Linked DNA regions of Homo sapiens: region 2 is linked to region 1. The links come from fine-mapping of genetic effects on gene expression. Tissue or cell type: visceral fat. Region 1 holds a variant in brackets; the other region holds the start of a gene. All regions are shown on one strand. Distances are between the middles of the regions.

The links. PIP is the estimated chance that this variant, and not a neighbour inherited with it, causes the effect.
Region 2: it holds the start of FAM240C, and the variant in region 1 is fine-mapped to the expression of FAM240C in visceral fat (GTEx, PIP 0.99).

The regions. Positions count from the first base shown.
Region 1 is chr2:242,131,132-242,133,814 of GRCh38, forward strand. All of the region lies in intron 4 of LINC01881 (long intergenic non-protein coding RNA 1881), which reads left to right. Among named protein-coding and RNA genes, the nearest start is that of LINC01881, 44 kb to the left of the region's middle. The variant C/T (reference allele first, on the strand shown) is at 1,097.
Region 2 is chr2:241,899,328-241,902,010 of GRCh38, forward strand. FAM240C (family with sequence similarity 240 member C) reads right to left here and starts at 1,137. Exons shown (of 3, transcript NM_001382368.1): 1 at 1,031-1,137. The coding sequence starts at 1,042. All of the region lies in intron 2 of LINC01237 (long intergenic non-protein coding RNA 1237), which reads left to right. RefSeq lists enhancers at 608-1,252, 1,253-1,896, 1,897-2,542.

The DNA.
Region 1 (2,683 bases):
TATGAACTGCATATTAATTTCTCTCTTTCAAGAACATTTTTATTTATTAATTCCTTACAAAAACTCCCTAAACTTTGGAACAGCTCTCAATTGCCTGTATTCTTTTTTTTCTTATTATGGTACTCTTCTAGAGATTTGGCTTGCATCTATGAATTAAGCCAGGACATCTTCAGAAATTGTCTGATTAAAAACACCACCAATGGAGTTTCATTTAATTTGTATTGCTCTGACTAGTGAAACACACACATCTATGTTGCTGAGGATATTTTACTGCAGTTTGAGTTGTAATAATAGCTCTGTTTAAGATCCGTCAGTCACTTGAATCTTCTCTAAGGCTTTGTATGTTAGAAGTTAATTTGCTTTCTTACAAGGCCACATTCTATCTTGTAACTAAACAACTGAATTTTATGTCTTAGCGTAGATGGTTTATTACTTTCTGGTTTTTCTTTAGTAAGAATCCTATAAAAACACTAGTATTTTTCTCTGAGTTTAAAATTCAACACATGCCTACTGATATGGTTAGGCTTTGTATCCCCACCTGAATCTCATCTTGAATTGTAATCCCCATAGCCCTCATAATCCCCACAGGTCAAGGGAGAGACCAGGTGGAGGTAATTGAATCATGGGGGCAGTTTCCCCTGTGCTGTTCTTGTGATAGTGAGTTCTCACGAGATTTGATGGTTTTATAAGGGATTCTTTCCCCTTTGCTCGGCACTTCTTCATGCTGCCTTGCGAAGAAGCTGGCTTGCTTCCTCTTTGTCTTCCGCCATGATTGTAGATTTCCTGAGGCCTTCCAAGCTGTGCTGAACTGTGAGCCAATTAAACTTCTTTCCTTTATAAATTACCCAGTCTTGGGCAGTTCTTTATAGCAGTATGAAAACAGACAAATACACCTACTATGTAAAACTTAAAATACAACAAAACAAAACAATATCTCACTAACATAGGAGCTAATATTTTGGTGTACTTTGTTTAGTATTTTATATTAAAAATATGTACATATATATTTATATATAATTAAGAACATGTATGTACAATCGTGCATACATCATGTACATACATCTACTTAAGAAAATAGCTATGTAATATACCATTA[C/T]TCAACTAGATTATAATTTTTTCTCCATTTTTTATTGTAATTTATCATTTTCTACTTTTTTGTTTTCTCATTTATTGCATAATATTTAATTATGCAAAAAATACATTAAATACATTGAAAATATATAGTGTAGCTATAAGAATAAAGAACGATGGTAAAACAAATGCTAATACCCACTACCTGACTTAAAGAATATGATACTATTTTTTTCCAATTGAAATCCCCTCAACTACTCAGAATTACTGCTATCCCTTTTATCCTTTCATTAATTTTCTTCTAGTTTTCTCACATGTGAATCTATTTCTAAATACATTTCTTTATTTTGCAAGTTTTTGGACTTCATATAAATGTAACCATATTGTATATATTCTTCTTCAGCTTCTTACTTTTTCACTAAACAATATGTTTTGCTGATACTTACATTCATATGTACAGTAATAGTTGATTTATTTTAATGGCTATATATTATTCCATTGTTAGAATACACCAGGATTTATTTTTACTTATTTTTTTTGCTGGAAAATTGGGTGTCTTTTTTATTTTTTGATATAACAAACAATGTTGTAATCATTTTGTATTTACTTCCTAGTCCACTCCTGTAAGTTTCTCTTGAGTACATACTAGCAATGAAGATGCTGAGTCACTGCATATACATACTCACAAGTTTATTCTATAATGTAATATTCTATAAAGTAGCTGTATCAGTTTATACTTTAACCAGTAATGGACAAGATTTTATGTTACTTCCCATCTTTGTTAATTATTACTTTTAGACTCTAACTTTTATCAGGCTCATGGATGTAAAAAGTATCTCAGGGTGGTTTTAATTTGCATTTATCTGCTCATCTATGAAGATGAGCTTCTTTTCATATAATTATGAGTCATTATTTTTGTTTTGCCTTCTTTTGTTTATGCATTTTGCTTGTTCTATGTCTTATTTTTCCTGTTGATTTTTGGGAGTTCATATATATTCTAAATGTATATTTATTCACTCATATATATGTTGCAAATATTACAGTTTATGATTTGTCACCTTATGATATCATCCAAATAGAGAAGCTTTATATTTTGATGTAGTCATATGTTCATTTTTCCTCCTTAATGTTTGTTTTTCTTGGTTCTATGACCTACCAAATGTAACAAAAATTCTCATTTATTTTTAATCTAAATGTTTTAAGTATTTTCCTGGAATTCACCTTGAATTGATTTCTATTGGAGATAGATATCCAATCTAATTTGCCTCATATGGATAACCACTTGTTCTATTACTGCTGTAACAAATTTCTACAAACTAAGTGACCTAAAATAACACAAACTTGTCATCTTACACTGTACACAAGTCAGAAATCAGGCATGAATTTTAGTGAACTAAAATCAAGTTGTCGACAGGCATGTTTCTTTATGGCGGCTAGGGTAGAATCCATATCCTGGCCTTTTCTATCTTCTAGAGAACATCAGCATTCCTTTTCTCATTGCCTCTCCTCTCTCTTTTTAAAGCTGGCAATGTCACATTTCTCTGACCATTCTTTCATTGTCACATCTCTCTCTGGACTCAGCTAAGAAAGGTTCTCCATTTTTAAGAACTCA
Region 2 (2,683 bases), 230 kb before region 1:
CATCGATGCCACGCCCTTTGTTCCAGAAACTTAGACATGCAAAGTTGATCATGAAGGGACTGAACTCAGCCACGCCTGCCTGTGCTGAGGACGCTGGCGCGAATTCAGTGAGTGAAAACTCATCCAATGAGGAGGGTGGGATGCACGGAACCCACCAGTCAGGGCCGGGCCCAGCTGCTTCCCCGGAACTTCGCACCTCCTCTGGTGTCTGGGCAGACGCCTCCCGGAGTGAAGCTGGGGCTGGTGTCAGATTCAAACCGAGTAACAGCTGGAAAACATCTGACAGCTGAGACCTGGCTGTTCTTGGCAGGGGCTTCAGAGAGCAGCGTGGGCGTTAGAGCTTCTGCTCTTAGGACACTTAGCCCCCAAAGGCAGCCCTTTAAACCCTCATGGGACAAAAACAAACCAGCAGCAAAAGGGAGAACCAGCAAACCAGCAGACAGAAGAAACAGACACGCGGCCGGGCGCGGTGGCTCAGGCCTGGAATCCCAGCACTGTGGGAGGCCGAGGCGGGCGGATCACGAGGTCAGGAGATCCAGACCAGCCTGACTAACACGGTGAAACCCCGTCTTCACTAAAAATACAAAAAATTAGCCGGGCGTCGTGGTGGGCGCCTGTAGTCCCAGCTACTCGGAAGGCTAAGGCAGGAGAATGGCGTGAACCCGGGAGGCGGAGGTTGCAGTGAGCCGCGATCATGCCACTGCACTCCAGCCTGGGCGACAGAGCGAGACTCCATCTCATAAACAACAACAACAGCAACAAAACAAAACAACAATGACAACAACAGACACACAAAGGGGTGCGTGTTGTGAGGCAGGTGATGGAGACACTCTCCCCCCACCAAAGGTGTTGACAGCAGGAATCCCAGTGGGAAAACAAAATTACAAAGTTCAGTTCCCCCAGCGAAATGCGGGTGGGCTCACGTCTTGTGCCAGATATGTCACATACTCTGTTCACCTTTTGGGGGCCCCCAAATGCAGCGCCAATCTCTCAAGCAAGGACAGCGCCTGTCACATCACAGAGAGCTTACTTTTCCAACCATTTCTCAGTGACGGGCAGGTTTTCCTGTCTCTGTTGAGGGTCCTCAGCCTGTCCTCTCCGGGGTGCACGCCTGTATCTCGCCTGCCGCTCTCTGTTACATGGGCTCAGTGACACGCATGCTTGGCGTCGGTTCAGTCCCAGAAAGACGCGCTGCCCTCTGTCTGGGCACCGTCCCTGGCAGAGCTGTCCGTCCGGAGGGCAGCTGTTGGCAGCATGGGAATCTGGAGGACGGCCAGCTGGGCCTCCTCTGCCCTCAGCCCCCATCGGGACTGTTTTTTTCTTCTTTCGACGGCTGCTCCCAGGAAACCTTGTGGGTGGGAGGGAGCATTGTCTGGGGAGGGGCGTCGGGGCACCTAGGAGTCCTGGGTTTTGCCCAGGCCTGCGTCTCAGGAATGGTGGCCTTTGCACTTACTGCAGGCGAAATGTATATCACAAAACGACGATGCAGACACACTCAAGGCAGGTGTGGAAATGCTTAGGGTCTCTCTGCCCCACCCATACATGGGTTTACGTATTTATTGTGAGGAGCTGGCTCTCGCGGTGACAGGCGCTGAGAGGTCTCGGGATCTGCCATCTGGGACCCAGGAAAGCCTGCGGTGTCAGTCAACCCGACTCTGAGGGAGGTTGGTGTAAATTCCAGACCTTGGTCCAGAGACGGTGAGATGAGGCGTCCTGGAGCAAGCAGGAAGGAAGGCAGGCGAGCAGGAGCGATTCCTCCTTCCTCCACCGCGGCACCTTCAGGCCGTCAGAGGATTGGATGACGCCCAGCACACGGGGGTCACCGCGTCCGGAAACACCCTCCCAGCCGCACCCAGAAACACTGTCCCAGCCGCCGCCCTGGTGCCATCAGGTAGATGCACAAAGTGAAGCCCCCAGGCTTTGTCCTGGACGGGGTTCCTCTCCCAGGATCCATCCCTCCAGGCCTCAGGGAGCCGGCAGCAGGGCCGGCCCAGGGCCAGCCTCCGTGATCTCGTTTCAGTCTCCCGGGTCACTTGCTTCTTTATGAGGTTTCCAAGTCATTGATAGTTTCAGGTGAAAGCTTTTGGGAAATTTTCGTTTACTATCATAAAGCAGACGGTACACTTATTTTTTATATTATCCTTCACAGTTGTTTTTTTTTAAACTGGAGTTCTGTGGGTGTCATCAGTGGATTGGGAGCTGTTCGTGATTTCCCGAGTCCTGGCGTGTGCTCAGGACACCTTGATCTGTGGCTCCCTGCGAACTGGGGTTAGGCCTCAGGACGCGCCGGGACATGCCGCAGCGCACAGAATGCACAAGGTGGAAAGACGGTGCTCAGGCAGCGCGGGTGGAAGACGCCGGTGAGAACCAGCAGCTGCTTCAGAAAAACCGCTGCGTGCAGCACCGATGGGAGGAAGCCACCTAAAAACGGAAAGGAATAGCCCCAGGAGAGGCGTCTCCAGCAGGACTGCGTTTTTGTAAAGCCCGTGGTGGTCTCCCCAGGTCCTATGCGCGAGCGCCCCGGGGATTCCCCACCTGCCCTGGAGCCGAGAGGCCAAACCAACCAGCAATCACAACACCGGCCTACACTTCAAAACTTGTCCTTCCAGGCCCCTTCCTTCTGACGTGTGTGCGGAGGGACGGCAGGGCGCCACCGTGCTGGCCGTGCCTGATGGAGCAGCAA